Linked DNA regions of Homo sapiens: all the other regions are reported to be linked to region 1. The links are microRNA targets in miRTarBase. Many come from high-throughput screens and were not tested one by one. Region 1 holds a microRNA gene; each other region holds the end of a gene's coding sequence.

The links. Region 1 holds the annotated microRNA hsa-miR-920 (GGGGAGCUGUGGAAGCAGUA, at 3,428-3,447, opposite strand). A microRNA usually pairs through its seed, bases 2 to 8, with sites in the 3' UTR of a target mRNA and lowers its output. Matches are read on the target gene's strand: a 7mer-m8 pairs with bases 2 to 8, a 7mer-A1 pairs with bases 2 to 7 and ends in A, and an 8mer does both.
Region 2: miRTarBase lists MBOAT2 as a target of hsa-miR-920. Seed matches in the 3' UTR shown: 7mer-A1 at 626-632.
Region 3: miRTarBase lists PPIL6 as a target of hsa-miR-920. The part of its 3' UTR that is shown has no 7-base or 8-base seed match.
Region 4: the mRNA of NCKIPSD is a reported target of hsa-miR-920. The part of its 3' UTR that is shown has no 7-base or 8-base seed match.

The regions. Positions count from the first base shown.
Region 1 is chr12:24,210,318-24,215,917 of GRCh38, reverse strand. It overlaps MIR920 (microRNA 920), which reads right to left and starts at 3,497; the gene lies at 3,423-3,497. It also overlaps a transcript of SOX5 not described here.
Region 2 is chr2:8,853,624-8,859,223 of GRCh38, forward strand. MBOAT2 (membrane bound glycerophospholipid O-acyltransferase 2) reads right to left here. Exons shown (of 13, transcript NM_138799.4): 13 at 1-5,281. The coding sequence ends at 5,056. Among named protein-coding and RNA genes, the nearest start is that of KIDINS220, 19 kb to the left of the region's middle. RefSeq lists an enhancer at 1,295-1,846 and a silencer at 1,436-1,730.
Region 3 is chr6:109,388,497-109,394,096 of GRCh38, forward strand. It overlaps PPIL6 (peptidylprolyl isomerase like 6), which reads right to left. Exons shown (of 8, transcript NM_173672.5): 8 at 1,719-4,441. The coding sequence ends at 4,330. Among named protein-coding and RNA genes, the nearest start is that of CD164, 8.8 kb to the left of the region's middle.
Region 4 is chr3:48,670,698-48,676,297 of GRCh38, forward strand. NCKIPSD (NCK interacting protein with SH3 domain) reads right to left here. Exons shown (of 13, transcript NM_016453.4): 13 at 3,147-4,050. The coding sequence ends at 3,847. Among named protein-coding and RNA genes, the nearest start is that of LINC02585, 9.7 kb to the left of the region's middle.

The sequences.
Region 1 (5,600 bases):
ATTAGATCTATATGTGCATCCTTATACCAGTACCACTAATGTCTTAATTATTGTAGCTTTGTCATAAATTTTGAAGTTGGGAAGGATACATCCCCTTTTTCTTTCTTTTTTTTTTTTCAGGATCGATGTAGCTATTTTGGACTTTTTGTATGTCCATATGAATTTTAGGATCAGCTTGACAGTTTCTGTAAAAAAGCCAACTGGGATTTTGATAAGAATTGTGTTCAATCTGTAGATTAATTGGCAAGTATTATCATTTTAAGAATATTAAGTTTTCTCATCCATGAATGTGGGTTGTCTTTTCATTTTTTAGATATTCTTTAATTTTTTTCAAAGATGTTTATAGTTTGTGATTCACAAGCCTTAGACTTCTAATGTTAAATTTATTCCGAAGTATTTTATTCTTTCCATGCTATTATAAATGGAATTGTTTCCTTGATATCATTTTCAGAATGTTCATTACTAGTTTGTAGAAATACAATTGATTTTTATATATTGATCAACTATCCTGCAACCTTACTGAACTTGTTCTTTAGCTCTTATAGTTTTTTAATTACTTCCTTAAGATTTTCTAAGTAAAAATGATAACGTTATCTACAAATAGCGATAATCATACTTCTTTCTTTCCAGCCTGGATGCCTTTTCTTTCTGTTTCTTATTTAGTGAACCTGTATGAAATCTCTAATAAAATGTTGAATAAAAGTGGTATGAGCAAACATTCTTGTTCCTTAGTTTAAGGAGAAAACAGTTAATGTTTTGCCATTAAGTATTATAGTTGTAGATTTTTCATAGATGGTCTTTACTAGGTTGAGGAAGTTTCCTTCTATTGCTAGTTTGTTTAATGTTTTGATGGTTTTAAAGCAGGGTGTTGGATTTTGTCAGATGCTTTTCAGCATCTATAGAGATATTGTATGATTTTTCCCTTTATTAATATGGTATGGTATGTTATTTGATATTTATATGGTAAATCAACTTTGCATTCCTGGGATAAATCCTACTTGGTTATAGAGTGTAATTCTTCTTGCCATTTTATGTACTCTAAAATGATCTAAATATTCCAAAATTATTTAGGCTTTTTAAAATGAAAAAGAATATAAATTAATAAATAAAAGTTGCACAAGTCACCTGGTCTTAGATTACCTCTAAGTCTGTAGCTCTGGTATGTTAGACCAGTATTTCAGAAGTGGAATTCTGTTTTCCTGTAAGTACAGTTTGAAGTATTGTCATTAAAATACTGACCTGCATAATCTGGTTGATAATATAGGACCAACCTAAGACAAAAAATTGATAAGCTTTTTATTTATACAATTTTAATAAGCTTGTTGCAAGATCCCACATATAATTAATAAATGCATAAACATCTTGAAGTCATATAATGTAGTCATTTTGGTGGCCAAACCTTAAAAAGCAGACAATAGCTGATGAACTTCCCCATATAAAAAATATTCCACAATCACAAATAAATAATAAAATCATAATAAAATAGCTGTATGTATTGAAAACTTAGATTTGGGGTTCATGACAAGCTTATGAAGCCATTTTGTAGATTGGGAAAATAAGCCTCCAAGAGGTTAGATAAATTTGCAAAAACATTCCCAGAAATCAATAATTAAATTCTGCTTTTATGACCCTGCAGTCTGTCTCTGATAAAGTGACTACTTATAGAGTGTTTCTGTTTTTATTTTGTTCTTTCTATTGTTGGTATTTTTGCCTGGAAATTATTCAATGGGTTTATGAAGTATTTATTCTTCTATAACTTAGTGTCCTAGTACAATGTAGCACCGTGCTTTGCTAAGTGCTTATGTATTCTATAAATTTTATTTCATAAATTTATACATATACATGTATTCCATAAGTTTTATTCTATAAATTTATACACATATGTATTCCATACATTTCAGTGCCCGTTAGAATGTTTTGCGTAAAGTATTGTAGCTCTAAGTAATATTACATTATATATATATATATTTTAAACTATCATGGACTATAAAAAATGGTTGTAATTGTCTCAGTAAAACTAGGCTTAGGATCACTTCAGGCTATACACACACACTTGTGTGAGTGAGTTTGTGCATCACACATGCATGCTCACATGGCTGAATTAATCATATGATGACTTTTAAGTGATTTAATTAATATGGCTCCAAAATAATTAGTTCATATTTTTACATTTCAGTTGTCGCTGTATCTTGAAATGTCATTAATAAAAATTGTTTAGTTTTTCATTGATTTTTCATTCATTAGCCACTAACTAGCACAGTCGTATGAGTCTGATGTTGTTTTATGGCTATGAATCTGGTCTAGAAAAAAAAAAAATTATTATAATGAAAGTACTTAATATTTTTTCCAACATTTTGCAATAGAAATCTCATTTAACTATCTTTATCATTTTCAATTTTTTTATTTATTTGGAATTACTCTGATTTCTCACTTAATATTTTCTTTCTTTGTTTCAATTTTTCTTCCTTTTTCTTTTTCTTTTTTTTTTTTTTTTTTTTAGCATTTCAAGAAATAGATAATATCAAGGACATCAGGACACCGGGAGTGGGAGAGATTGGACTGGGAGACTCAGCAGGTCAGGACATTTACATTACCATTTGCTGGTCATTCTTTTGCCATCAGTTTTACAATTCTCAAATCTCTTGCCACTTGCTTATTTCTTCCATGTGCTTGAGTTGTTCTTGGTTTGCAAATTATGAATAATACTCTAATAATGTAAGAAGTTGAGCATTTGGGCATCTTCCTTTTATAGTTTGAAGATGAAAATAATTTAAAAACTATCAAGAATAGAAACAAAATCTTACATAAGTTACATAGATGCCTGAATTTATATTTTTTCTATATTTTTTTCCTTGTATAAACTGTTTTGAAGTGAAACTTCTTAATGACTTTCCCTTAATGACTTTTAAGAATCAAATTCTTAAAACATGTAGAATGTTAATAAATATGTAATTGTAGGGAGGAGCACCCAGGTCATGAAAATCGAGTTTCTTCTCTTCTCTGCCATGTACTCTGTGCTGGTGTCCACCTCTAAAAGCTCTTGACACTCTTCAGAGTCAATCTGTTTGCCAACGCTAATAGTAACCAGAGAATATTGACTACCATGTATGAAATGAGAGTTAATTAAATCAATTTCTATGTAAATAAAAGATCTCAATAGTCAAAGAGTCTCCTGGGAGCATTCAGCAGTCATTGTGCAAGGTTAGTTTTAGTCACGTTTCTCAGTAAGCTAGAGCCACACTGGCCTTTGAAGTCCCCATTGCCATGATTGTGGCTAATGGCTGTGTGTTCATTCCTGGGTCCAGGGAAGTGTCTTGGTTGTTTCAACAATGCTCACAACTCTCACTATTATTGCTTAGTTATGAGTGAAGACTTGGTGGTCCCCTCCTTCCTTGTAATCCTTCCTTCCTTGTAACCCCTCCCGTGTTACTGCTTCCACAGCTCCCCTGGAGTGTGTCTTAGCTCCTACACATCCAGGTCTTCTGTAGAACAACTACCAGTGGCTTTTTCAGTTTTCATTATACAGAGAGATAAATGTCTTTGTCCTTCAGTGTGATCAGATCTCTTCAATTAAAATGACTTACTCCTAAAGGAACTAAGCTTAAAGTTATTCTATCTGGATGCCTCAGAGATTTTGTTATGTTTTAGCATGAACATTAGGACATTAGGGATTGGACACATTTTTATTGGCATGTACCTTGAGAGAACACTCCTTACCCGCTTAAAGGGAAGATAAATTTCGACTATATCTTCATGCAATGCATATGCTTAACTCTCTGCTTTTAGCTAAATGGTAAGAGTCCTGCAAAAAGCTGTATTTAAAATGATACGCCAAAGTAAGTGTGTCTGCACTGATTCTTGCAGAGTTAAGAACCACTCTTCAATGATACTTTGATAAAGAGTATTCTGATAATAAACATTCCCAAATTTTTAGTTTGCAAATATTATGGAAATAAACATTAAAACCAAATAAGTTGAAGCTAAACGTTGTGGATGTTCTTGTCATCCAACAATTATATAAATATTGGCCTTAAATTGAATACACTTGTTGTTTGGCTTTCACATGTTTGGAAGCAAAATAAAGAAGGAAGGGACAAACATCTCATAGATCCCTGTAGTCTTATGAGACAGAAAGAAACTTGGTCCAATCAACTTATTTCACAAGTCTAAATAACTCTCCTCTGTCACATGGAACATTAGTAACAGAACTAAATCTATGTTTCTTGGCATGATGCAGGTCTACTACATTATGCTACCTCACAGGTTATGGAACACAAATCATTCTGTATACTACATTGTGCACACACATAAAAATACCATCATATTTGCCATTTTGCCAACTTATCATTTGATAAAGAATGCTATTGGTACTAACACTTCACTTTGGATTATACTAATATTCAAAGAAATCAAGAACTTAAAAATGTTTTTGATAGAGTCATTTCCCTGGAGAAGTTTTCTGTTTAGCTAGATGAAATAAAAAGATGATTATCCATTCATTAATTCATTTATTCATACAAGGAAAATTCCTACTCTCCCAGAGCTTTCATTCCTATGGAAGAAAACATAAAGTGAAGATTTTGATGTGTATGTCAGTGGGGATAAGTACTAAGAAGAAAAATAAAGCAGAGATACTAGAGAACACTGAAATACCTCCTCAGATACACTGTCTAGGGAAAGGCTCTTTGATAAGGAGAGAATGGAATAGAGGACTGAATGGAGTAAGAGAACAATTTCAAAATGTGGGGGAAGAGAGGTACATTCAACAGGAAGAGTCAGTATGAAGAGTGTGCTTGGTGTGTTGAAGGAATGGCAAGGGCAGTGGCAGGAAGACAGGAGCAGACAAGTGAGAGATGACGCTATGGAGGGTGAGTGGTGTTCATCATTTACAGCCTGGTAGACCATAATAGGACCTTGACTATTATTCTGAGGGAGATGGAGATCATTAAAGGAATCTTAGCAGATGAGGAGCATGTTATGGTTCATATGTTTTAAGGATCAGTCTCACTTACAAGTTGTGTACATCATTTAAAAAATGTCCCTTTATAGACAGAATCTAAATTATGAGTAAAAATAGATTTAATAATGATTAGGGCAACATTGTCTAACCAGGATATTGACTGATGATTGTGTTCAAGGGGCTAATGTTAGATAATACAGCTATCCTTTTTCTTTTCCATGTCTTTAATTCACAGAATTCTCTTGAGTTTGAATTACGGTTTTTGGCTTTGTATAATAACATTGTTTTATAATAGGGACCTTAATGATAATGATATATAATATTTAAAAATTGTGTGCATTCAGTTAGTTACTTGGCACAGCTGAATTTCTCATTTGTTTGCCATTTATCATTTCAACCCTAACCACATAACTTTCTGTAAGTCCAGAAAGAAGTCCTGAATTTTATCTCCTATTTGAAAGAGAAGATGTTTGAAAATTATGTAACTCTTTTATTATAATTATCCCAATCCATGAGACTATTTATGAGCAGGAAAGACAGAGTAGTTGAAACAAATCAATTTAGTATGAATTAGCAGGCATGAATTCTGGAGGCAGCTCTGAAACTTACTAGCTGGGTGACTTGCCATCTTTGACCTCTG
Region 2 (5,600 bases), not on the chromosome of region 1:
CATTTCCATTTATTTTTAGTGTGTGATTTGATAAAACATGGCTGGAGATGGCTATGAATCGCTGAGTAAGCTTCAGACAGCGGTTCTGCATGGGTCATCACACTATAATTTACAGAACATACAGTCTTAGTGTTGTATTTTTTCTTTATAAAAGTTGTACTTAAAGAAGAGTTATAATCAGTTTTAAAGGCAAGACAAATTAGTTGGTGTAAAAACTGTGTATTTAGGCTGTGTTTCACAAAATTTCCCAGTCAATGGCCTATGGAACGTGTCAGTTCTTTATTGGGATTTGCATAATGTTAAAAAACCTATTAAAATAAATATTATTTTAAAACATACAAAAACATTATTCAGCAGCCTACCAATTAAAATGTAATTGGCTGCAACCTCTGTACAAGAAAAGCCTCAAAAAGCAGCTTAAGCATTGATTATAAGAGCTTTCCTACAAAATACCGATGTGGAAAATTTCATTTTAAAATTTCTGTTGTAATCAGAGTTTCTATAAATAGATTTGACTACTTGGTGTTGCAGAAAAACACTGTAGAGACCCTCTATGTTCTAATCTTTCAAACTCAAATTTCAGGGTGTATTTCTCTCCTTAAATGCAAATCTTTTGCTTCAGCATTGGGAGCACGCGTTCATCAAGAAACCCACTTTTACAAGGGCTGGAGAAAACAGAAATTTCAGCATCTAAGATGAGTGTATCAACGACCAGCCACTCATTAAATGCACACTGGGTTAAATGCAGCAGTTTTATAAGGTATTGAGGGCAGTTAAGATTACATCTCACAGTGTTATTTAGGATTCTGCACCTATATTAAATTTCAGCCAGGAAGAACTATTAACGCCTGGATAAAACTCCACAAAATACTAGCTTATATCTAAAACTCTGGACAAATTTTTAGCTGACACAGATATAGTAGGCACTATTCTGAAACAATTATTTTCTCAAGTAATTTTTCTTTCAATTATAATGTAGAACTGTTAAGACCAATTAACTAATAATTGTGAACAGTTGATAAGGAAACAAAAAAAGTATAAATGTCCAGATTTGTTCATGAATATACAAACTAAATACTTACAAGGTATGAACTTTAAATAGGAGAGATTTTTGTCCTAAAACTGTGATCTAGTCCTTGAGTAAAAGTATAAATTTATAATTATTTTAATGGCAAAAATTTTAAAGCTATTGTTTTCTGCGGTTTAAAATAAGGTGTAACTAAACTAAATATGCTTTAAATATCCTTGAATAACTTTGAGATGTTATATAGTGGTAAACCCTGTCCAGTAGTCAGTAATCTGTATAAAATATTTCAGAGCATATATCTTCTCCAATTCCACACAGCACAGAAACCAACAAAGCAGAGAGAGCAAAAGGAAAACATGTTTTCTTCAGCAGAGACTATTTCATTATGAAACACTCATTGTAAGAGCTATTGCCAGTAGAAAAAGTATGTTGCCATGCCTTCTGATTTAAGGGATTCAGAGGTTTCACTGTTATCATGACAACCTTTTGAAATGTCAGGGCTTTGAGCTCAAGTAGTAAGTCAATGACCATGACAATAGTGTGGACTGTGAATGTGCCCAAGTCCTTGAATCCTACAGACCTTGCTAATGGCTCCGTTCACGACACCCAACTGGTCCTGAACTCTTAGGATTAACCCGTTTGCTTATGGCTGAGGAACTTGGGGTCTACAGGACAGGTGGCTCCTCCAAGTCTTAAGTCTCATGAAAGGCAGAACCAGAATGAAGATCCAGGTCTCCTCCTAGGTCAGCTAGTGCTTAAATGTGAGTTACTGTCACTTTCTAGAAACCTCCTTTTTACTGCACATTTTTCTCAAAAGTGGTATGTTTGGAAATCCTGTGTGTGTCACACATGGTGGAGACCAATAAATATATTTTTGAAGCAAATGGGCAGTAGTGGCTAATAAGAGAAGTGGTCACCAGACATTTTTGAAGCCAAATAAATCTTCTCTATCCTGCCGGATATTTTAGAAGCTAAATAAATTCCCCCAATTACCCTGAGTTCCAATAAAAATACTTACTTTAAGAACAGAATGAGCCACTTATAAAATGGTGACAGCTGAGGCATACCAAATTATACTCTTACTGTTTCAAGAAAATGAAATTGAAGGATGAGTAGTTATTTTTGTTCATTTTTTCCCTGAGTAGTATATAATTAACCAAAAGTATAAATATGATGTTGATTGATCATCTCTAGAGTGATTTCATGATACCTGAATAGTGGAAAATATAAAACATAAATATGCATTGAATCTTATTCTATTGATTAAAAAAAAGCAAGCACATAATACAACGAATCCCCTTTCTATTTAACAGGAGTAGACGTACCAGTTTAAAATTCTTCTACTGTAAGTACTAGAAGCAAAATATTAATCTTTGTGATTATTACTTCTCCAAACTAGAGGAGAGATATCCAAAAACCATTTCATGAAAATAACTAGTTGATTCAGGGGTATGAAAATCAGTCAAACTGGATATGGAATTATTATCTTCGAAGGAACCAGAAAACCAATCAAATATCTTGCTTTCTAGATGACAGTGCCAAGATCATATTCACTGAGCAAGAAACAGGTAACAGTGACTAAGGTTTACAGGCTGAGAAATAAATTCAGGTAACAGAAATGTGATTATTTGTAGGTGGCTAGATAGGCTGAACCAAAAAAAAACACACACACACACACACACACACACACGAACAAAACCCAACAAGTTTGTATTAAGCCTTCTTGTTTTCACTTATGACATGCCTGAACCTGTCTTTTAAATTCTTAATTTGTTCACTTTCTCTTAATAGCAGTCGGATTCTCTGCAACATTAATGAAAATGATCAAACATTTTACAGGGCAGGTACATTCCATGAACATTCTTTCTATTCTCTCACATTAAACAGCTGGCATAATTTCTTTTTTCTTTTTTTTTTTTTGTGAGACGGAGTCTTCCTCTGTCACCCAGGCTGGAGTGCAGTGGCACAATTTTAGCTCACTGCAACCTCCACCTCCCAGGTTCAAGCAATTCTCCTGCCTCAGCCTCCCAAGTAGCTGGGATTACAGGTGTGCGCCACCATGCCCGTCTAATTTTTGTGTTTTCAGTAGAGACGGGGATTCACCACGTTGGCCAGGCTGGTCTCCAACTCCTGACCTCAAGTGATCCGCCCACCTCGGCCTCCCAAAGTGCTAGGATTACAGGTGTGAGCCACCATGCTCAGCCAACATAATTTCAATGCATGGGAAAACAGAGGAAATTTATTTAGTTATCAATCCTTTCCTGGGTAGGGTTAGCCTTATCAGCCGGAAAACACTTACTTTTAGATAAATAAAAATAGATTAGGATATTTCTAAACTTCAAAAAAGACACATGCCCATTTTTGCTGAGACCTCAAAAGCTGCAAGTGCATTTGCTTTTCCTTTCTTCTTTAAATGAAGTATTATATAGCATAAGCCAGATGGTTGCCTTGTCTTTAACTTCATTTGCAAATTTATTAGTGACTCCACCCCCCGAAAAAAAGAGAGAGAGAACCCCATCACAGAAAATTTGCATTTCATTAAAAATTTAAGGCAAAAAGTAAAAGTAAGTTCCATACATAGGTCAAACAAAGGTGAAGTCAGAAGGCTTTGCCCCCTCCCCTCCTACAGGGCAGGAGGTACAATCTGGGGCTGAGGCCACTCCACTGCCTGGCATCAAATCCCACTCTTCTGCTTTCAGCTCCTGTGGCCACCACAGTCCTCTGTGGGATCGCAGGAGATGCTTAGTAATCCAAGGCAAGATTAGTTGTGGTAAAAATGGCCCATAAAATAAAAGCACATTTTTCCACTTACAGAACCTAAAACTCATTTTAGTAAGAGTTCACAGCAAAATTTTAATGTGAGAAGAGTTTGAAACTGAATTTATATTATTCTTAAAAAATGTCACCCAGACTCAGTGACTTTTATTTTTCATTTCCCTAAAAGTTTCCCAAATATGAATTAAATTGTCAAGGATAAGAAATGGATTAGCCAGATAGTAACCTACCTAGCGATTTCTCTTTCAAAACCTTTGAGCAACCTACCAGTATTATTTTCAAAGCCTCTAATTCTACATAATTTATGCCTGATAAATTTAATTTAGAAGTCCAAAGTATCACGAAGTCATTCAACTTTTTTTTTAAGTCTCACATGACGGCGCAGAGCCCTGGCATGGGGGGGAAGCTGCCTGCAGAGTCGCGGCTGTGCCCCGTGCATTCCACCGGAGGCCACGCAGTGCTTCTTCATTCCTGCCTTCCTTCGTCACCTCTCTCTTTTAAGAAAAAGAATAAGCTTAAAATATCACATTACCAAACCTCTCATTATGTTTTAAGAGATTCCTTCTGGAAGCGCTCTTTGACTGCACAAGGTAATTAAACTCTCCAGCAAAATCAGCTACCTATAATTTGGCGTCCATTACTGTTTACAGTTTCACTATGGATTGTAGTCATTTGACATACTTTAAGAAAACCCTTCAAATACTGAGATGTTTATTGCATTTTAAAAATATCCACACTCTTAAATATCCTGTTTCAAATTCCTCCTAAAATCCTTTACAGCACACAACATCAACTACTGCAGTAGCGTTCTCACAATATTACACTTGAAAATACCATTTAGGAACAATATTTTAGGAAATAGAGGGTTTAAGGCAAGACATTCATTTGGAAAAGTTAATTTCTCTCTATCATCCAGATTGACACGATTATTTTTCCACCTCTTCAGTGCCTTGGGATACGCAACATACATTCAGCAACAGGGCACGCGTGTGACCCTACGGACAAGTGCTGAGGTTGGGAGTGCCCACTGAAATATGGAAATATTCTTACATAAGGCGTGGCCCACGGAGACATGGCATGGGAGGGCTTGTTTCACTCCATTTCCAATCTGGTGTACAGGAAATTCCTTATCTATAACTGTCCATTTCCCCCCAGTTAACTGCTTTTCCAACAAACTCAAACCCCTTGAAAAGGTGCTAAGATTGGTTTCTGTTAACATCAAAAAAAAAAAACAGCCCTCAGAGCCTTCCCGATCACTGCTTTAGTGATGAATGTCTCGAGGCTATTTCTTGATTCTGATTGCAAACATTGTTTGTTGTAGAAAAACTGTTCTGTCCCAAAGAATTTTCTCCTTCATCAAACTTTTTGGATTGTGAGAGCTGAATGTTTTCATGTGTATTCTTTCTTCTTTGAGTTTTTTTCACTGGCAACAACAATAATACTAAGATACCAAGAATGTGCAGGCAATAATACCAGGAGCTAAAAGAAAAAGGGAAAAAGTTTATTAAAACTTGATAATTAATAATCCTTAATAACTGCACACTTGTCAAAATGTCACATGGCCCACCTTAGGATGTATTTGTTTACTACATTACTACATTATTCTTTTATTTTTCCCCCTCAGGAGAAGAAACCTGACAGTGTAGGCCAGTGGGTATTTATAGCACTGGATAAATCCAGGCTAATTAGAAGCCTGATTTTCTAGATAGCATATTACATTCCTTTGTAAGGGTCAGAAGGCCATGGTTAAACAGAATAAAAACAAAAATGTACATATTAATACCGGTAGCAATCTGAA
Region 3 (5,600 bases), not on the chromosome of region 1:
CTACTGAGTTAGTCACCAATATTTCGTATGATATACAAAAGTCTTAAGACTTGCCAGATTTAAGTGGTGGTGATTCCACTTTGGGAAGTGTAGGGGATGGTAAGATCAATATAGTTTAAAAAATGAGTCTCCATAAGGGAGAATATTGCTAGGTGTGGTAGAGACCAATTTTAATTTTAAAGATATACCTTTGAACTAGTTCAGTTGATTGAAAGTTAATCTGATGTGAGAACTGCTAATACTCAGTATAAAAAGAGCTTGATATTTCTTGAAATTAGGATGATGATATTCTGTCAGTGGTAGCTTGACTGGTTTCCGTGGGGAGACATTTCTGAAGGGAAACTAATTCTTAAGGAATATCTGCTGTGTGCCAAGCATTATTAGAAGCACTGTGCTGTGCTTCTCATAATTCACCTGCTGTGAATAGATTCACCTGCTGTGTCAATCCTCAGAACACTGAGACAGATGTACCCCCATTTCACTTAAAATTGTTGATTTTATGCGTTTCCTCAGAATAATCACTGAAGTTTTAGAGCCAGAAGAAAGCTAGCAACTCAACTTCTGTTATTTTTACAAATGGGGACAGTGAAAGGTTAAGTGATTTGACCATCACATTGCTGGACAGGTGGTTCTCAAACAAATAATGCTTCATTTAAAATATGTATAAAAACTCAGGGTCTGGAATCCTGAGGTTGCCAGATTATCCATTCCTTAACAAATAACTGGCACTGTTTGCAGTAGGGGCAAACAAATTCCTTGGATAGAATTTTAAATATTTACCTCAAATCTCCCCATATAAGAAAAATGTTTAGATATGCCCTCCCTTATTCACACGGCCTAGTATAAGATAAAGCGTATGTACTTGACTTTGCCATATCAGCAATTAGGGCAAGTTTAGACATATAACTTAGCATTTTGTGTAAATCATCAGAAGGCCTTTATTGTCCTATTTGTAGATGTGGAAAAATCTAGAATCCCTTCTGTTTAATTAGTGTATTTCAGTTTGGTTAAATCAAAGTCTTACATGTGGAGTTCATTGGAGTAAACTTTTGAGTCCTTCTAACAATCAGTTTCTTCAACTATGAGGTTAAACATACAAATCATTCTAGCACAGAAGTATCAGTGTGTATACTTTTAAGTGCTGGTGATAAGAACCACTGCATGGATCTGTGGTTGAGGTTTCCACAGCCCAGAAGTGGAAAGTTAGAGTGAACAAAGGGACCATGAACTCGCCATCCTTGAGAAGACTGGCAGAGTTCTACCTTTCTATTGCTGCTGACAAAGGGAGCTGGAATCAGTTTCTTACACCCACACAAATATCCCAGTTCTTTCACAACATCAGATAAAATGCCTAATGCCATTAATATATAGGTTCATCACCAGTAAGAACTGCCCTGCTGTTTGTTATTACATGAGTAACGCTTGTCATGTGTTTTAACCGGGCTCCTTGCAAAGAATCAGTTTTCATTCACCAATTGTTTTGAATCCTGGTGGCAAGCCCAGCTCCCTTTTGTCTGAGATGTCCCCAGTGTGACCTGAGGAACCTGGGCAAAGGCCCAGCGAGAGGGTCTGGAAGCTCTAGACAAATCACCCGAGTTCTCAGACTGCCCAGAAGTCTGTGAGTACAGGAAGAGGGAGACTCTCCTCAGGGATTCCCAAATCTGGCTATCAAAGTCATTGGAGAGCTTTCAAAAAGTCCAAGCTCTGAGGCTACACCCTGAAGGTTACACATTAGTAATTTATTATTAAATTTATCGAGTGCTTACAGCAGACCAGGTCTCTTATAGGTTCTTTATAGAAATTATTGATTCATGGAACCCTCACAGCAATCTTATGTGGTAGGTACCACTGTTTCTCAGATGAAGGAATTGAGGCACAGAAAAGTTCTTGCCTGAGTTTGTGCAGCTAGGGAATGGCAGAGCCAGGATTCTGGCCCTAGAACACACATTCTTAACACTATGTTGCTCTGGGTCAGTTGAGAATGTAACATAGGCGGTCTGCTTCCTCCCATCCACCTCAGGTCTTAGCATAAAGCATATGTCATATAGCAATAAAGCTGTCATTAAAAGGAAAAGCAAATGCCAGTTGTCAGGAGTTAGGGATGGCAGAGGGCAGGGGAGTGGGTTGACTGTAAAGGGGTACTGGAAGGGGGTCTTTGAGGTGCTGGAAAGGTTCTATATTTTCTCTATAGTGTTGGTTACATGAATATACTCATGATAAAATGGCATCACACACATTGTACCAATGTCAGCTGCCTGGTTTGATATTGTACTACCGTTTTGTAAGCGTAGCCACTGGGGAAAATGGGTGAAAGGTACACAGGACTGCTCTGTACTATTTTTGCAACTTCCTGTGAATCTATATTTCAAAATAAAAAGTTAAAAAAGCCTACGCCTACTTTTGGCAAGCCTCATATCCATTAGAAGCCTGCCTCTTTAAGACTGATGTAAATAGAGATTGTTCTTGGAAGACAAACCTCATTCTGCTTAGGGTAAGAAAAGCACTCTCAGCCGGGTGCGGTGGCTCACGCCTTTGTAATCTCAGCACTTTGGGAGGCCGAGGCGGGCGGATCACGAGGTCACAAGATCGGGACCATCCTGGCTAACATGGTGAAATCCCATCTCTACTAAAAATACAAAAAATTAGCCAGGCGTGGTGGCAGGCGCCTGTAGTCCCAGCTACTCGGGAGGCTGAGGCAGGAGAATGGCATGAATCAGGGAGGCAGAGCTTGCAGTGAGCCGAGATTGTGCCACTGCACTCCAGCCTGGGCGACAGAGTGAGATTCCGTCTCAAAAAAAAAAAAAAAAAAAAAAAAAAAAAGAAAAGCACTCTTAGTCTGGGCAGAGCAGGGGCACAGGGTAGTGGTGGTAACAGGAGCTGAGCAAGGTCACCAATAGCAGAGTCAAGCACTCTGCTGACTACATTACACCATGGGGACTGGAACCAGTTCCTTATGTCTTGCAGTGATTCCCAGATGACTAGTGCCCAGCTGTCTAAATGGGAACCCTGGGGAAAGAGCTAAATGAACACAGAATCTGTGCCCCACGCCTGGGAACCCTGGGGAAAGAACCAAATGAACACAGAATCTCTGCCCCACGCCTGGGAACTCTGCCTCAGTAGGTCAAGGACAAGGTCTGTTAGGTTACATTTTAAAAGCTCCCCAGGTGATATGAGCTTGAGAACTTTAGATTACAGAGTAGTGATAAAGCTGAATCTCCAATAACATCACATGAGTCAGCCACCACGGACACTGTAAAACAAGCCCTTGGTTTTCATAGGGTTGGTATGGCTCAGAGAGATAAGGATGATGTTCATGTCATATATGAAAACATCCAAAGTGTAGATACTCTTTCTGAATGCTGGTATAAACAATGAAATATTACAATGAATTGCTTTTTCTTCTGCATCATTCCTATTTGGTTACTTACCAAGTTTCTCCTAGGAGTACATGTAGTTACAAACAAGAACATAATTCTATTACAAATGTCTTAGGCTATCAGGTGTGTTGCTAAATTAAGAATTTTTTGTCCACAAGTAACAAAATTCTCAACCAACAGTAACATAAACAACACAACACAGGGCTCTGTTAGTCTCCTATAATAAGAAGTCCAGAGTAGGTGGTTGCTGGTATTGGTCCCGCAGCTCAAGAGACTGGGGCTGACATCTCTGCAGTACTTGGCCTTTCTTTTTTTTTGAGACAGTCTCTCTCTGTCGCCAGGCTGGAGTGCAGTGGCGGCATCTCGGCTCACTGCAACCTCCGCCTCCCGGGTTCAAGAGATTCTTCTGCCTCAGCTTCCCAAGTAGCTGGGACTACAAGTGCATGCCACCATGCCCAGCTAATTTCTGTAGTTTTAGTAGAGACAGGGTTTCACCATGTTGGCCAGGATGGTCTCAATCTCTTGATCTTGTGATCCACCTGCCTCGGCCTCCCAAGTGCTGGGATTACAGGCGTGAGCTACCACACCTGGCCTCAGCCTTTTCTTTATGGCCACAAGATGACAGCTGTAGCTCCAGCCTCTCCACATTCCAGACTGGATGAAGGGGAAGGGGCAGGACCACTGGCGTTCTATTCCTGTCCCACTGGCCAGAACCATCTCTCATGGCCACCCGTGGCTGCAAAGGAGTCTAGGAAATTGAGTACCACCCTTTCACAGTCTCTATGACAGAGACAGGAAAGGAAGATGGGGAGGGATTGGGTGTAGATGAGGCAACCTACAGTGTCTGCCACGGCTTTCAAATTACAATTTATCAAGTACTTTTTAATTAAATCCACAAACAGCTGATCAGATACAAAGTAATAAATTATCACAGAAAATATTGATATGAAAATCAAGCATAAGGATCTCCACTGTCAGTAATTCTACACATATGTATTGGTCTTTCATTCTGTGTTGGAACTAATTCTAGTTGTTTAAGCACTTCTGTTCCTTCAATCAGTTGCCTACATAGGAGAAAAAAATGGAAAATTTAGTCAGTCATAAGTTTTCATATTTAGCTTAACATTCCGAAATGGGGTCCTACCCAGCTATAGCTAAGACTATTTCCTACAAATTGAATGAACATCAGCTCTAAGTATCCTAAACCTCTCTGGATGTGTGCACTTTACCACACCTGCAGTATCCAGGGCCATCATCCAGGCAGCTGGCCTCCTGCCGCAGCTCTAAGCTGGCTTCCTCCATCTGCTTGGCACCCTCCCCTCTGTTTTTCTCCCTGCAGTCAGGGTGATTTTTTTTTTTTTTGAGACAGGGTCTCACTCTGTTGCCCAGGCTGGAGTGCTGTGGCATGATCTTAGCTCACTACAGCCTTGACCTCCTGGCTTAAGTGATCCTCCTGCCTCAGCCTCCTGAGTAGCCAGTGCTTACCAGGTGTGTGCCACTAGGCCTGGCCAATATTTTTGTTTATTTATTTTTGTACAGATAGGATCTTGCTATGTTGCCCAGGCTGGTCTTGAACTCCTGGCCTCAAGCAGTCCTCCCATTTTGGCCTCCCAAAGTGCTGGGATTATAAGTGTGCGCCACCACACCTGGCCAGCATGGTCTTTTAGAAATAGCAATCTGCTTTCATTTCCTTGCTCAAAACACGACAGTAATTTCCCATTATCCTTAGGATGAAGACTATAAGTCCCTGCCATTGCCTACCAGGGCCTGCACAGTCTATCTCCCACGGCCTCTCGGGGAGGTCGGGCCACATGCTTCCTGTTGCTCTCTGCTACAGCCAGACTGGCTTTCAGTACCTCAAGAGCTCCACACTCCCTTCTTCCACAGCTCCTGCATTACTCCCCCACCCCTACCCTTTGGCATGGTCACCTCCTGGTCTTCCTTCAGACCTCAGCCCAGTCATCACCTCCTTGGGGGAAGTTTCCCAGGCCACCTTGCTTATATTAAGTTCTCTGTCGCTCCTTTAGAGAAGTTCCCAGGGTTGAAACCTTACATTTATTTGTATGCTTCTTTGATTGATTTCTAATTCTCCCATGATGGTAGGGATCATGCTTGTGCTCAGGCTCAGTGCCTAGCATAATGCCTGGCACTACCAGGCACCTGACAACATCCACTGAGTGATGAATAAAAGACAGCTCAAAGCCATGCTAGTTTCGACTGGAT
Region 4 (5,600 bases), not on the chromosome of region 1:
TTTTTGAGTTGGGGTCTCACTCTCACCCAGGCTGGAGTGCAGTGGTGCAATTGCTCCTGAGCATAAGTGATTCTTCCACCTCAGCCTCCCGAGTAGCTAGGACTACAGGTGTGGGCCACCACGCCCAGCTAATTTTTGTATTTTTTGTAGGGATGGGGTCTTCCTATGCTGTCCAGGTTGGTCTCAAACTCCTGGGCTCAAGCGATTTTCCCTCTACGGCCTCCCAAAGTGCTAGGATTACAGGTGTGAGCCACCTGCACACTTACACACCCATTCCTAGCTGCAGCTTCAGAAACTTCTGACCCAGGAAGTCAGCCCAAACCCCCTCACTGTCCCCCAAAATTTGAGTTCTTCTCAACTCTACCCAAACACTCCCCTTTCTTGGGGTGGCTTAATGCTCTGTCTCATTGCCCTTCCTACTGCCTACCCACATATCACATCTACCAACCTTCCACGCAGCCATAGACGTGTTCTATCAAAGACAGTTCCCTCCCCAAGAGGACTTCTCTGACTAATCATAATCTGCCTTTGGTTGTAATTTTGTGTTGTGAGGCCACCACAAGGGTGTTTGCTGAAGAGGTCCTGGAGTCCCCTCAGAGCACGCTTGCTACCAGGAGTCAGCATGTATGTAACTTCATCAGCTGGGGCTTCTGCTTCTCTTACAAACAGGTGCCAGGGCCCACCTTGGGCACTCCTGCAGAAGTGAGCAGAGGCTTCTGCCATGGGGCCATACCTTGTTTGACCTAGGTGCCAGCACTGGGACAGATGGCACAGCACAGTCCTGCCGTTCCCACAGGGTTTGTGTGTGCATCATGACAGGAAACACAGCAAGTCACAAAGGCTGTCCGATGTCCCTGCCTCAGCTTCCTGAGGACCTGTGCTTTTTACTGAAATACACTATCTCATAAGAATACTTCCCTGCCTTCCGCACCCCAGTGAGAAAGGAGTTGTGACTGGAAGTCAGTGTCATTGACTTTGGATATGAAAAGGAGGCAGAATGTCTCCAGGGTTAAAAGTAGTAACCAGGCCAGGCGTGGTGGCTTATGCGTGTAATCCCAGCATTTTGGGAGGCGGAGGTGAGTGGGTCACCTGAGGTCAGGAGTTCAAGACCAGCCGGGCCAACATGGCGAAATCCCATCTGTACTGAAAATACAGGAATTAGCCGGGTGTGGTGGCAGGCGCCTGTAATACCAGCTACTGGGGAGGCTGAGGCAGGAAGAATTGCTTGAACCCAGGAGGTTAAGGGTTGCAGTGAGCCAAGATCACACCACTGCACTCCAGCCTGGGTGACAGAACACGATTCCATCTGAAAAAAAAAAAAAAAAAAAAAAGCGGGGGCTGGGCGCGGTGGCTCACACCTGTAATCCCAGCACTTTGGGAGCCTGAGACAGGTGGATCGTCTGAGATCAGGAGTTCGAGACCAGCCTGACCAACATGGTGAAACCCCGTCTCTACTAAAAATACAAAAATTAGCTGGATGTGGTGGTGGGCACCTGTAATCCCAGCTATTCGGGAAGCTGAGGCAGAGGAATCATCGCTTGAACCTGGGAGGTAGAGGTTGCAGTGAGCCGAGATCACACCATTGCATTCCAGCCTGGGTGACAAGAGCAAAACTCCGTCTCAAAAAGAAAAAAAAAAAAAGTTAGTAACCAGGTTGTGTCCCACAGAGCTTTACTGGGGGCCAAACACTGTCAACCCCTCCTCAGGTCCCAGTGAGTTTGTGCACCTGGCCTTCTGACAGTAAGCGGTGAGCAGGGCATCCCCCACCAGGACCCCATACTTTCCTCCCATGGGTTTCCTATGGAATGTTGCTGCTTCAACTTCTGAGAGCCTCTTGCTGGGGGGCCCCATCCCTAGCCCTTGCCTCCCTGTGCTGCTTTACCTTCTTTTTGGGAGGATAACTGCCCTCTGTTTTCAGCACCCCAATAAGAAAGAAAAAGTCATGACCAGAAGTCAGTGTCAGTGATTGCTGATGTGTGGAAACATCTGATGAATGAAGAGTTTGGGTAAAAAATAAAGGGAACTGATGAAAACCACTTGTGTGTGAAGCCTATATAGTGGTGTGTGCCTGTAGTCCCAGCTACTCGGGAAGCTGAAGTGGGAGGACTGCTTGAGCACAGGAGTTGGACATCAGCCTTGAAAAGATAGTGAGACTCAATCTAGAAAACAGAAACAACACTTCTGACTGGTGTCTGCCTGTGGGTTTCTGACTCTGCTCCCAAACTTATGGTGAGAACTTCTTTGCTAACTTGAGAGTCTGCAAGAGTGAAGTTTTTGCCAAATTTTGGCCCTTAGTTCCTCTAAAACACTAATGGAAACGTAACCCCATGCTTGTTAAGACCCTCCTTCTGCCCTACCATGATTACCAGATCTCTGCTGAGGTTGCAAGATGAGGTGATCTTGCTGGAAACAAGGACAAATGGGGGAAGAAAATAGGGCTGGACAGGCCCAAGCATTCAGAGGCCAGGGCTGGGGGTAGGTAGGGGCCTGCTTCATTTGAGAACAACTATGAAGGACAATAGGGTTTCAACAGGGGAGAGAGTAGCGGTATTCAAAGCAAAGCAAAAGATGTAAGTGAAAGATGTAAGCGGGCCGGTGCGATGGGTCACGCCTATAATCCCCGTACTTTGGGAGGCCAAGGCAGGAGGATCACCGGAACTGAGGTGTTTGAGACCTGCTTGAGCAACATAGTAGGACCCTGTCTCTACCAAAAAAAAAAAAAAAAATTAAATTAGCTGGGCATGGTGGCTACTGTAGTTTCAGCTACTCAGGAGGCTGAGGCAGGAGGATCACTTGAGCCTGGGAGGTCAAGGCTACAGTGAGCCTGGGTAACAGAGTGAGACTGTCTCAAAAAAAAAAAAAAGGAGAAAAAGAAAGATGTAAGTGTGTAAGTGAAGCCTGGAGATGCAGACACCTGCGAATGGGCTGCTGAGGGGCACTTGGCTATGGCTGGGGCTCAGGAAAAGTGGAGCTCAGGGAAGAGAGGCTAGAACAGGGCTCAAAGGGCCTTGAAGGCCAGGCCTGTCAGGGTCCATCACCTCCTCAGGCTGGAGAAGTCAGTGCAAGCTGCAGTGATGGGGTCCTGAGGCCCCAGTACTTCTGCCCATCCTCTCCCACTGTCTCCCAAGATCATACAGGGAAGCCTGTTTCCAGATGCCTGTGATTTATTTCCAAAGGAGAGCTACAGCACATAGGAAAATACACATGGCTTTTCAGTCTACATTTTTACAGAGAAAAGAGATTCGGTCATTGGCTTTCTCAGTGCCATCATCCTGTTCCATGAGGCTCCAGGATGGATGGCCTGTCTCCAAGATCCCGCTTTCAAAGCAGCAGCTTGGCCAAGGCCTCTGGGGGTAGGAGTGAAGGGCAGCGACCCCCATGTGCGGGTGGAGGGGAGGACATGAGCAGCACTCACTGCAAAGCTAAGGCAAAGAATAGAGCTGGTGGGAGATGCCTCCCCTCACCCCAGGGGCATGGCTTGCTGAGGCCCAGGATACAGACCAGGAGGGGTGGGGATGGGGGTCTGGTCCAGCCTGGAGCGGCAGCAGGACTCTGAGTGTACACATGGGTGTGGGGTGAAGAGGGGGGCATGCTGAAGAGGAAGCCTACCAGGGTATAGAGGGGCTTTAGCTTGCATATTCCCCCTGCCCCAGAACAGCTCCCAGACCATGGTCCCCAATCCTACACTTGGCCCCTCTCTTAAGTTCTACTTCAGGTGGGGGTCCTGCTCAGGTTCCTTCTGCCACCTTATCCCCTCCCACTGTCAGTGCAAAACATTCTTAGGGCCAAGCCCCTGAGTCCCCTGCACACTGACTGGAGCTGCAGGGAAGGGAGGACAGCAAGGTGCTAGCTGGGAGCCTCCCCCAGCACCAGGAATTCCTTGCACATCTCTCGGACAATCATGCGGTCCATCTGGCACTGGGGTGAGGTCTCCTCCTCATTCAGGATGCGTCGCAGTATGGCCTGCAGGTCGGGTAGCCGGTGGCGGTGCTGCAGGTAGGGTGTGGTGCGGACTATAGCATGCATCAGGGAGAGGTACTCCATGCGCAGCTGTGGGAAGAGCAGGCCAGCTCAGGGACCCCAGGGAGGTACTGCAACCACCACTGGACAGGGACAGGACCCCACTGTCCCACAGACCCCAGGGCTGTGGACCTGAACATCAGGGCTGCATCCCCAGCACCCACAATATACCTGGCACAGAATTGGTCTTCAATAGTTTTTGAGTAAGCGAATAAACGAATCATCCCAGCCACAGACAGCCCCAAGTATGTGGCCTGCCCAGGGAAGTCCTGCCCATCCTTTGAAGCTGGGTCTCTCAAGGTGCCTCTGTCTATCAGTCAGAGGCCCTCTGCTTCTCACCCTATCCTCTCTTACCCTGGAAGACCTCGTGCACATTCACAGCTTCAAATAGTGAACCACTCTCATACCTCTTACCTAGAACTCCCCTGTGAGCTCCAGACAAGAATATTCAACTGCCCACTTGACATCTCCTGCACATGTGACAGACCTCAAATCCACATATCTACCACCAAACTCATGATCTTTCCCATCCTCCCAGAGTTGAAGGTTTTCTCATGTTCTTACCTTTAGAAAGAGCACTGTTGCCGATTCAAAAGCACAGGCCTGAAATATGGTGTCCTCTTTGCTTCTTGTCTCCCACATACCTCATATCCAAGCCATGTCTAAGACCTGGCCATCCTACCTCCTACATATGCCCCAAATTCATCTCCAACAGCCTCTCCTCCAACCTATACTCCCAACACCTCTGGCTGAACCAGTTCCAACAGCCCTTATGATCTATATATATATATCATATATATATATATATATGATATATATATATATATATCATTTTTTTTTTTGAGACAGGGTCTCGTGCTGTCACCCAGGCTGGAGTGCAGTGGCATGATCTTGGCTCACTGCAACCTCTGACTCCTGGATTCAAGTGATTCTCCTGCCTCAGCCTCCCAAATAGCTGGGATTACAGGCATGTGCCAAAATGCCTGGCTAATTTTTGTATTTTTTTTAAGAAGAGACGGGGTTTCGCCATGTTGGCCAGGCTGGTTTCAAACTCCAGACTTCAAGTGATCCACCCACCTCGGCCTCCCAAAGTGCTGGGATTACAGGCGTGAACCACCACGCCCGGCCAGCCCTTATGACTTGACAGCTTGTTCTCACAGAGACCCCCAGTCCACTGACCTGATGTCTGCTTCCCTCAACATCCCTCATTTCTCTTTTTACCTTTAATTAGAGAAATAATACCAAAACCTCCTTTAGGCAGCACACCCTGCTAAGTCCCAGCCCTGGGAGTCATACTGAGGTGCCTGCACATCAAACACCAGCGTCTAAGCTATAGACAAATGCAGAGCCATGTGCAGGCCTGAATGTCATTCACCACCGCAAACCTCAAACGGACACACAGCACTGCCTGAGCCTCCCACTGCTTTTCTCTGCTGTGTCACTCTCCCTTAGAGTAGTAATAATGTCCACCTTCTCTGTCTTTGAAACCTACCTACCTTGTCAGCTGGCCTTGTGCTTCATAGAGAATACAGAAGTAATCTTGCAGAAACCCGTCTTTCCCCTCAGTACCCACATCTCAC